Homo sapiens: one gene and its partners. The protein of the gene in region 2 interacts with the protein of the main gene of each other region in a pairwise test. Each region holds a gene or a part of one and is shown on either strand. Other genes may lie near its edges.

Evidence for each region.
Region 1: the proteins of TSPAN4 (region 2) and GNE interact in binary tests that used the Homo sapiens proteins (3 or more experiments, as listed by UniProt).
Region 3: the proteins of TSPAN4 (region 2) and NR4A3 interact in binary tests that used the Homo sapiens proteins (3 or more experiments, as listed by UniProt).

Annotation. Positions count from the first base shown.
Region 1 is NC_000009.12:36,220,420-36,224,066, forward strand, and holds part of GNE (bifunctional UDP-N-acetylglucosamine 2-epimerase/N-acetylmannosamine kinase), read right to left. Parts: intron 3,084-3,647; coding exon 2,954-3,083; intron 2,580-2,953; coding exon 2,358-2,579; intron 1-2,357. UniProt on the Homo sapiens protein: Bifunctional enzyme that possesses both UDP-N-acetylglucosamine 2-epimerase and N-acetylmannosamine kinase activities, and serves as the initiator of the biosynthetic pathway leading to the production of N-acetylneuraminic acid (NeuAc), a critical precursor in the synthesis of sialic acids.
Region 2 is NC_000011.10:849,228-852,874, forward strand, and holds part of TSPAN4 (tetraspanin-4), read left to right. Parts: intron 1-628; exon of another isoform or gene 629-801; coding exon of another isoform or gene 802-1,077; coding exon 1,078-1,140; intron 1,141-3,647. UniProt on the Homo sapiens protein: Structural component of specialized membrane microdomains known as tetraspanin-enriched microdomains (TERMs), which act as platforms for receptor clustering and signaling.
Region 3 is NC_000009.12:99,828,238-99,831,884, forward strand, and holds part of NR4A3 (nuclear receptor subfamily 4 group A member 3), read left to right. Parts: coding exon 1-756; intron 757-3,647. UniProt on the Homo sapiens protein: Transcriptional activator that binds to regulatory elements in promoter regions in a cell- and response element (target)-specific manner.

The DNA of each region.
Region 1 (3,647 bases), on a different chromosome or scaffold from region 2:
CCGAGGCAAGGCAGGAGCCGGCAGATCCACAGGACAATTCTGGATGCTGTTCTGCAGGCTTCTTAGGAGGTGCTAGTGGAGTTCAGCCCCCTTTGCCCTCAAGTCAACTTCAATAATGTTAATATATCCTTAATGGCTTTCTTCCTGCTCTGTTTCATTCTTCCCACTCACCCTCCTGCTTCTTGTGGTCACCTCCAAAAAACCATACCTGTACCTAAATCCTTGTCTCAGGCTCTGCTCTGAGGAATACCCAAGATAAGTCTTTTAAAATGTATCACACACTACCTGCTTCCTGAAGCAGAAAATATGAAATAATGATTTTGCCTTTTTTGATGCTGCCATGTCTAAAAATCTGTGATTCAATAATTATAAATATCAGTGACTGTCTTTTGTTATGGCGTTTAGCAGTTACAAAGGAGTAAAGGGTATTGTGCCTGAGAAGGCTCTGCTTTTAAGGGTTGTCTTGCCATCTGTCACTTCTTGGGCACTTATTCCTCAACCCCTAGCCCTCTGATTTACAGCTTAGTCACTGCTCTGAGCCAGGAAATGGTATCCAAGTTTGCTAAAACTGTGTCTGGAACTAAAAGAGGATGAGCATGAGCTAAAGTACATGAGCTTAGGCTGGGTGTGGTGGCTCACCCCTGTAATCCCAGCACTTTGGGAGGCTGAGGCGGGCAGATCACCTGAAGCCAGAAGTTCAAGACCAGCCTGACCAACGTGGTGAAACCTTGTCTCTACTAAAAATACAGAAATTAGCCGGGTGTGGTGGCACATTCCTGTAATCTCAGCCATTTGGGAGGCTGAGGCAGGGGAATCACTTGAATCTGGGAGGCAGTGAGCTGAGATTGTGCGACTGCACTCCAGCCTGGGTGACAGAGTGAGACTCACTCTTTAAATAAATAAATAAATAAGTACATGAGCTTAAAGGGATAGTGGTGTAATGTAGAGTTTAAGCACATACAAGTTTTGAAGTTAGACATATCTGTATCAGATGCTGGCTTAACCGCTTATTAGCTAAGTCTGTTTCCTCATTTAAAAATCAAGTTATACACTTAAAATATATACAACAAAAATAAAATAGAGTAAAAAAACAAAAGTAACAAATTGGGATGTCATAAAAAAATGACAGAGCAGGGAACTCCAAAGGTCCATTCTGCCACTAAAGTGAGGAAAAAACTGGTAAAAATGTCAGAATCAACCTTTTTGGAACTCTGGAAACTAACCAAAGTTTGCAACAAACAGAGGAATGCTTAATTTAAAAAAGAAAAACAAAAACCAGGGCCAGGTGCAGTGGGTCATGCCTGTAATCCCAGCACTTTGGGAGACCAAGGCAGGAGGATCCCTCGAGCCCAGCAGTTTAAGACCAGCCTGGGCAACATGGTGAGACCCTGTCTAAAAACAAAACAAAACCAGCTGAATCTTGATAAGAGAACTTTCTGGTGTTGTAACCTACCCTGGTCCCATCACCCACTCTCCAGCTTGGTGGTGACCTTGAACAACAGTCCACACTCCCAGTACTGGTGTACAGAAACAGTACTGGATACCAGTACCTGACGGGGCAGGACGAACTTATTTTCAAAAAATTGTGGTTGTTTGTTTTGACCTGCCTGTCACCTCCCTGGAGGACCACCTCAAAGGGCCTGCTTTCATCTTAACTAACTAGGAACTATCCTAGTGCTGAGGGGGTTACATGAAGGATGTTTATCAAAAACATTTCGGCCGGGCGCGGTGGCTCACGCCTGTAATCCCAGCACTTTGGGAGGCCGAGGCGGGCGGATCACGAGGTCAGGAGATCGAGACCATCCCGGCTAAAACGGTGAAACCCCGTCTCTACTAAAAAATACAAAAAATTAGCCGGGCGTAGTGGCGGGCGCCTGTAGTCCCAGCTACTTGGGAGGCTGAGGCAGGAGAATGGCGTGAACCCAGGAGGCGGAGCTTGCAGTGAGCCGAGATCCCGCCACTGCACTCCAGCCTGGGCGACAGAGCGAGACTCCGTCTCAAAAAAAAAAAAAAAAACATTTCAAGGTAAAATGTATTAGTCTGTGCTGTCTAGGGCAAAGGATAACAGCTGGGGCATCCAACACACTAACCAAAAAGACTGGGAGGAAAAGCTGGGAAATGAGAAGCTCTGGGAAATAAGAGCTTTGAATAGCTCTGACAAGTTCCTGGAATTTAGAAGGCCACAGGCATGTCTAAGGCTGGGCACATGCTCAGAAAAGGCCACATGTGGCTCACCTTCAGGCTCTAGTCATGCAGGAAGTGAAGGCTAAGGCAGAGTTGTAACCACCTGACCATGTTGAAGACATGCTCCAATATACATTCTAGCTCCTGAACCAACCTCCCCCTACCCCTCTTACCTGTGCCTGTGATAAGTGTAACAAAGTTTTCCAGTCCCTTTCCTTGGCCAAATTTCCTTTCCGCCAGGGCAGCACAGTTGCCATCATTGTCTACCCACACAGGGAGATGCAAAGTGTCAGAAAGGGGGGTCCTAAGGTCCACAGAGTTCCACTCTTGGATCAGTTTGGTTGAATGCAGCACAATTCCTTCCCGAGGATTTACACGGCCACCTGTGGAAATGCCTGCGCTCCACCACAAACACAAGGAAATAATGCTGATGAGCAATCTCAGGAAAGTATGCTGACTTTCTTGTCTTAAGAACACAGATTCATTCACCCCAGATCTCCTAAGACAAACGTTACCAAGGACTGCAAGGAAATATTAGACAGTTGTGAATTAAAGCCATAGCACCTTAAAGATTTCTAGAACTGTCAGTGCTTCTCTCCTAATGCTTGTTGGTGTCCCAGGAAGTCCCCATGCTTGGGGCCCACAGACAGCACCTAGAGCCATCTATGCACAGGGCAGACACTGACTTGATGCTCAGGCATGCATCACAAGTTAGTAAATTTTGTACATTAAAATGAGCATTTCTTGGATTTATAATTTACAATCTTACCTACTCCCAAAATTCTGCAGTTCAGTTTTACAGCTTCTGCTGCAGCTTCCACACACATCTGTAGGATTAAATTAATCCTCTCTTCATAGGTTTTAGGATTGAACTGAGTATACTTCTTAACTATTTCACCCTAAAAGAGAAAACAACAAGTTCCGTCTTACTGGTCTTAGCTAAGCAGCATATTGTGAGTGTTGTGATCTTTTTCATGACAAATTAGACACTGCTATAGGATGGCCCCGCAGTCTTAGATGACTGCTTGGGGAAGGACCCACTGCCTGGTCTGGGCCAGCCCTGGGGTAAGCTCAAGTAGTTCCTGTAATCTGTCCTAATATGGGGCTGTTGAAGCAATGACAACTCCACAGGCAGCAAGATGGGCCCCTCTCTTTTTTTTTTTTTTGAGATGGCCTCTCGCTCTGTTGCCCAGGCTGGAGCGCTATGGCGCGATCTCAGCTCACTGCAACCTCCACCTCCCAGGTTCAGGCGATTCTCCTTCCTCAGCTTCCCAGGTAGCTGGGATTACAGGTGCCTGCCACCACGCCCGGCTAATTTTTGTATTTTTAGTAGAGATGGGGTTTCACCATGCTGCCCAGGCTGGTCTCAAACTCCTGACCTCAAGCAATCCGCCTGCCTCGGCCTCCCAAAGTGCTGGGATTACAGGCGTGAGCCACTGCCCCCGGCCGGGCCCCTTTCTTAA
Region 2 (3,647 bases):
GGGTATCTCAGGAATCACACCTGCGCTTTTCTGTGTTCTGGAACCTCCCATATAGTCAAAGACTCAACGACACCTGCTCCATGCAGTGCAGGCTGACCCAGCCCCCCACCCGCCGCCGGCACTCAGGGCTTCCCCAAGGGCGCCCGGGGCGGAGCCGCTTCAAGTTGCCACCAGACAGCAACGGGGTCACCCTCCATTTGCGTAGTGCTTTGAGTATCGTTCTCGTGGTTGGAGGTCTCCAAGCCCGGCCCGGGGCCAGAGTCCGGGCGAGGTACCGTGGGGGGAAGGGCTGGGGGTGTCGGTCGCGGGCTAAGAGCTGCCCAGGTTTCATCCCCAGGCCCCGGCCCCGGCCTCCAGTCCCCTCAGGCGCCCTTCGCGAGCATCTTCCTCCCGCGCGCGAAGGTGGGGGGGCTGGGGCGCCGGCGCGGGCGAAGGGGCCGGGGTCGCGGCTGGTGCGTTGCCGGGGGCTGCGATTGGTCCGCCCAGGCGGAGCGCTGGGGTTTGCCGGGCGGTGCGGCGAGGAGGGGAGGGGTCCGCGCGGGGGCGGAGCCGCCGGGGATTGGCCGGGAGGGCGCGGGGCGGGGCGCGCGGGGTCGGGGGCGCGGGGGCCGCAGCGCGCGGGCCGGGCAGATGTTTGGGTTCCGCCGCCGGGGTCCGAGCGGATCCGCGCGACCCGCTGCCACCGCGGGGGCCAGAGCGGGAGCAGGAGCGGGGCCGGAGCAGGCGCCGGCCGGCGGGATGGGGCGTTCCGGGGCGGCGGGTGCGGGGCGCTGAGCGGCGGCCCCGGCACACCCGGGCGCGATGCGCCGCTCCAGCACGGACGAGTCCACGTACCGGCGCAGCCCCTCTCCGGAGGGCAAGGAGCCGGACTTCGCGCGCGGCGGCCCCTTCCGGCGCTACAGCAGCCTATACGGGCGCGCGGGCGGCGGGGACGCCGGGGGCTCCTTCTTCGGCCTGCACGCGAACCCCGGCCCCAAGGCGGCCCAGGCGCGCTACACGTCGCCCAAGGGCAACAAGTACGTGGTTTTCTACCTGGACCTCTCCTTCATCTTCCTCCTAGAACTGAAGCGCTGCGGCATGGCGCGCGCCTGCCTCCAGGCCGTCAAGTACCTCATGTTCGCCTTCAACCTGCTCTTCTGGGTGAGTCCGGGGGCCGGGGTGGGGGCCCGGGAAAGACCCGGGGTCCCTCCCGCGGCGGGTCGCGGGGTCTGGGGAGTCGGAGTCGCTGCCCCGGCCAGGCGTTGGGTGCGGTTGTGGGGATGGTCCCGGGAGGACCCAAGACCGCTGCTCCGGCTAGGAGCCTGGACTGGGCGGGTGGGGAAGGTTTGCACCATCGCGGGGTCCGCCCCCTGCACTCAGAGCGGCTGCCCCACGCCCTGGTCCCCTCTCCTCTCCTCTCCTCTCCTCACTTGATGAGACGGGACACGTTGCACACGTGCGCGCCGGACAGGGCCACCCGGGCACTGCGCCTCTCCTAGGGTCGGGGTTCGAGTCCGGGTCGTGGCCAGTTTTGCGCGGGGCCCCGGTGCCTCCTCTGCGCCCGCTCCCTCCTCGGTGCAGCCGTTATCCTTGCCTCGGCCCCGCCCCTCCAGGCAGGCGACCTGTCGGGCCCAGGGACTCACTTCCGAGGGTTTGAGCCGGCTGCCGCCAAGGTCCCCCAGTCGCCGGGAGGCGCTGCGGAAGGGAATCCTGGACACTGAGCAGGGCCGTGGGCCATCAGTGTTCGCGGGAGACACTGGCTTTCCCGCGCCTCCGGCAGCAGAGGCTTCCCTAACTTTTGCGGAGGTGGGGTCAGGTGTGCTCAGACCTGCAGTGGTGTCCGGGGGGGCCCTGTGTGCTGGATGGAGCAGAGCTGAGGTAGAGGGCGGACAGGGTTCCACCCCACCCCAGCCCCATGTCAGCAAGAGGTGGGGCAGGATTCCCACCTGGCCAGGTTGGAGCAAGCCTCATGGAGCCGCGACCCTGTCCTGTCCCTGGCTCCTGTGGAGGGCAGCTGCAGTTGGGGGTGGCCGAGGATGACCTGGACCGGGCCTGGGGCTTTGCTGGCTGGGCTGGGGGAGGTGAAGTGATACCAAGGTCATTCTGTGCCCTATTCTTAATTCCTGAACCAGCTCCTGCAGCTGGGAGTCGGGGGTGTGGCCTCAGCTCCTGCCTAGGCTCTGGGCTTCAGAAGGAGGCTGTCCATCTGCATAAGGTCCAGCTGGGCCAAGTGCCCAGAAGCCTGGGTCTGCCTTCCCACCTCTCCCCTCCTGAGCCCAGGCTCCTTCTCTAGCCAGCTTGGGGTGGAGGCAGGGGGGTCCCTGGGAGGGACAGCCAGCCTGGGTTGCCTGCTGAGTGTGACCCAAGGAGGCTCTTGGCCCAGACATCCACCTCCAGAAGGGGTCACCCAAGGGTTTGTTTTCTGCAAGAGGCTCTGGAGGGGTGAGGCCCAGGCCTGAGGGGCGCCTTGGAGGTAGGGGTGGTGGGAGGTGTGGGTGTGGTCTGGAGCTGGTGGGTGTGGGGGGTGGGCTGCAGGTGGCTGAGTGACCAGAGTGTTTCTGTGACGGGGGGACGGGGCAGAATGACTGAAGGGCAGTGGGTGTGGGGGCCCGGCAGGCAGGCAGGCAGGTCCTGGGAGGGGAAGCCCTCTCTCCTCTCCACCCTCCTCCTGTCCTCCGTGGCCTGGACACCTGCCTTCAGGGAGAAAGAAGAGGGTCCTTTCCCAGGGGGGGTCTCTCTGCTCTGAGAGCAGCCCGCCCTCATGGAGGACCCCCAGGTGGACCTCTCTTTGCTCTGTGAACCCCAGAGAAGCCTCCATTCCTACCGCATGGCAGACACACTCCCCCATCCTCAACCTGGGAAAGAACACACAAGGAACCCCCTTGGGACCCTATTCTGGGCTGGAAAATGCAATTCTCTCTTTTTTATCTTTGTTTTTTGAGATAGAGTCTTGCTCTGTCGCCTGGAGTGCAGTGGCGTGATCTTGGCTCACTGCAACCTTCCATCTCTGGGGTTCAAGCGATTCTCATGCCTCAGCTTCCCGAATTGCTGGGATTACAGGCGCGCATCACCACGCCTGTCTAATTTTTGTATTTTTAGTAGAGACAGGGTTTCACCATGTTGGTCAGGTTGGTCTCGAACTCCTGACCTCGTGATCCGCCTGCCTCGACCTCCCAAAGTGCTGGGATTACAGGCGGCCCCAATTATTTTTTATTAATCAATCACCACCTTCCCGCCAGTCCAGCAAACTGGAGCCCCGCTGGCTTCATACACCAGCCTTGGCCCCCCCCAACCCTGGGCTGGTGCCCAGTGGGGGTCTAAGGGTGGGGGCGGGGCAGGGGAAATAAGAATGAGTGGGGGTTTTGCCAGGAGAGTCTGTCCCGGGCTGATGTCCACGCCTGCTGTGCCCTGAGTCACTGTGAGCTAAGCCCTCTCCTCCTGGCGTGAGGCTATTTCAGGAGTCAGGCCTAGCGCTCCCCTTCCCCAGGGCTCCTTTCCTTTTGGGGGTGCCAGCCCCCTGTTGTCGGGGCTTTTGCCGCCCACTCCATTTCCTACTCGTTGGGAGACCAGGGGATACAACCTGGCCTCCTCCTCCTCCTCCTCCGTCTTCTCAGGGGCGAAGTTCAGGGGTTAAGGTGGTGGGAGGGACGTCCCCCCGGCGGGACCTC
Region 3 (3,647 bases), on a different chromosome or scaffold from region 2:
TCGAGCAACTACGAACTCAAGCCTTCCTGCGTGTACCAAATGCAGCGGCCCTTGATCAAAGTGGAGGAGGGGCGGGCGCCCAGCTACCATCACCATCACCACCACCACCACCACCACCACCACCATCACCAGCAGCAGCATCAGCAGCCATCCATTCCTCCAGCCTCCAGCCCGGAGGACGAGGTGCTGCCCAGCACCTCCATGTACTTCAAGCAGTCCCCACCGTCCACCCCCACCACGCCGGCCTTCCCCCCGCAGGCGGGGGCGTTATGGGACGAGGCACTGCCCTCGGCGCCCGGCTGCATCGCACCCGGCCCGCTGCTGGACCCGCCGATGAAGGCGGTCCCCACGGTGGCCGGCGCGCGCTTCCCGCTCTTCCACTTCAAGCCCTCGCCGCCGCATCCCCCCGCGCCCAGCCCGGCCGGCGGCCACCACCTCGGCTACGACCCGACGGCCGCTGCCGCGCTCAGCCTGCCGCTGGGAGCCGCAGCCGCCGCGGGCAGCCAGGCCGCCGCGCTTGAGAGCCACCCGTACGGGCTGCCGCTGGCCAAGAGGGCGGCCCCGCTGGCCTTCCCGCCTCTCGGCCTCACGCCCTCCCCTACCGCGTCCAGCCTGCTGGGCGAGAGTCCCAGCCTGCCGTCGCCGCCCAGCAGGAGCTCGTCGTCTGGCGAGGGCACGTGTGCCGTGTGCGGGGACAACGCCGCCTGCCAGCACTACGGCGTGCGAACCTGCGAGGGCTGCAAGGGCTTTTTCAAGGTGAGCGCACGCCGCCCCCTCCCCTCCGCACCCAGCCCCCTCACTGAAGGGAGCTTCTAAGTGAGTGTAGGAGCATCCTTGTTCTTCCCGGTTTGAGAGCTGTAATCGGCACATCATGCTTTCCTACAGCCCTTCCTAGCACCTTCACATCCATTTTCTCAGGGGCTTTCTACTGAGGTCCATGTGCAGCAGGCCACCCCAGACGGACTCCGGGGGTCCGTGAACCTCCTGGCCTGACACTGCCCTATGAACATTTTTCTGGAGAGCTTTCAGCAGAGTCTTAAAAGGACCTGTGACTTCGAAAATGCAAAAACCTCATTGCTTTGTCTGTCCATCCAGGGTGTCTGAGGGGATAGTGTGTGCGTACCAAGCCCTGGACATTTGTGTCTCATTTAATCCTTACAGTAAGAGCTGGGGCTCTAGAGTCAGACACATCTAAGATTGAATTCTGGCCACTCACTAGCTATTTTTAGTAACAGTGTTTTAAAACAGTGTTTTAATTTTCTTTGTTTTGTAGATGAGGATGTTGAGGTTTGAAGAGGTTAATCAGCTGCCTCAGGACACACCTTCAGAGAAGGGAGATGGAGGCAGGATGCCAACCCACGTTTGCGTGACCCCAAAGTCCATTCCCTTTTCACAGCTCTGCAGCTCTAGGAGACAGGGACAACTGTCTTCTTCTATGGAAAGAGCTGCCTCTTTCCATAGAAGATAGAACTTGGGGTCTTGTGTCCTCTAGGAACCTTTCCCTACCTCTGTATCACATGCGGTGCCAGGTGTAGACATAATTCATTCCCTCATAGGCCTAACGGAGAAATTTTACAGTGGGAGGGCCATCAGCCTCCCCCATATTTTACCCACGAGGAAGCTGAGGCCTGGAGCGGTGAAGCCTTATGCAGGCTGTAAGCAGTGATTTAACTGCCCATGAGATGTTTCCAGCTGATTTGTCCTGACTCCTGAGTTCAGTGTTATTTCTGCCACTTAGGGAAAAGACCTTGCTCTTTTGCTGTGCTACCTTTTGCTGTTGACTCCCAGACTTTATCAGACACTTACTTCTGTGCCATCCTTCTCACTCCTCACCCCACTGGCCATTATTTCAGTCATTTACAAACCCACACAAATTATTCCTTATCCTCTAGTGCTGGACAGGGTAGAAAGAAAGAGAAAGCAGGATGCTGACTGGGTAACTTGGATTTGGGAGGCCAATAGGATATATCTGGGAGTACACCAGAATTAGTGAGAGAAGACTCAAATAGAAGACCTTGATCTTCCACCTTCCAATTGTATCATGTTGGGCATGACACTTCATTCTAAGCCTGTTTCCCTATCAATGAATAAAACTCAGAGAAGAGCTGTGTATTCAATGAGATAAAAATATATATGAAAGTGCTTTATAATCTTTAAAGAGCTGTACAGATAGTTCATTATTAAACAAAAGCTATAAAGTTTTGTAAAAATGCACATTTGTGGAGGGATATACATAGCAACAAGCAACAATTATTTTTGATCTTCAGATTGTAAATATCACTACCTGAATTCTGCAGAGAAATGAGAAAATGTTTGGGGAAAGACTGCAATACGTTAAGTGCCCTACAGATATTTGGGATTATGATGTTTTAAATGCAGAATCTTGGTCATTTTATTTTATTTTTTAGCCACTGAGTTTGGCCATTTTTTGTTTTAACTACTCAAGCTTTATCAGAGCTACTTTCAAGTAACTGCATTCCTTTAGCAGATTTGATTTTTACAGGATTTCAGTGGAAAATGCTGAAGGACAGTGAAACTGGCAGCAGAAAGGGGGAAAGAAAAAAACAAGAATTATGAATAATCTACAAATATAATTATCTCTAAATAATGGAGAGTTGACCAAAATACCAGAGTGGTAATACATTCTGAGTCCAGAAATGTCAATTAAGTGTTCCCCAACAGCTTCTCTTTTCTGCAGCAATCCCTCGAAAACAAATCTATACTTGAAAGGGTGGGGGCAAGATGGGGGAGAATCACCCCACAGAACTGTTAATTAAGGGAACCGGAGCAGGTTTTACCCAGTGGCTTTCTACCATTAAATTGAGTTCTTTAAAAATGTGACATGAAGTGCAGTTAATGATAGGAATTCGGTGATTGAACCATAATGATCTCTCCCTGTCCTTAAACACAAATGTAGGGAAGGCTTCAGGTTATTGGGAAAATGTATACCTGAAGCAAAATGCCATCAGCACTCAAATTGGCATAAAGCCTTGAGGATGATGGCAAGAAATAGAGTGTTAGAAATTACTGCATGTTCAATGAAAGCTTTATTCAGGAAACACACGTTTCCTACCCTTACAGACTGCTAAGAATTTAAATGCTGGAACCTCAGAAGTATGCCTGTGTTTCAGAATTTTGCATTTTAAACTAAAATCACCTACTATGGTGGGAGAAACATGTCTTAGACTTGACATAGGTTGGCTTTGTTATATTAAGTTTTATATAAGCAATCTAGAAACTATCCCCTAAAATGAAATTAAAAGGTAACAGGGTAAAACTGAAACATGGGGGTTGAGAATGACTGGAAGTAAATGTTAAAAAGCAAATCTAGATGTTTGAACACAAAATAGATCATAAAGCCCAAGTTACCTGGATTTATTTTCTTTTTTTATTAATGCAGCCCAGGCTTCCCAAATAAATTTCAACTTTCTGCTCTATTTGGAGTTGTATAGATCCAGGTAATTTCTGAACAGTTTCACCCTAAGTGGTAAAAATACGTTCATTTGCACAAATGTTTTCAATTTAAAAAGCAAGCATTTGTTTAAATTTGGAGGACGAAATATGTTTATTTCTCCATGTGTCATTTCCAAATTATATGGATTCTGAAAAATACAACATCATTTTTCTATCCAACCTTAAGTTTTATG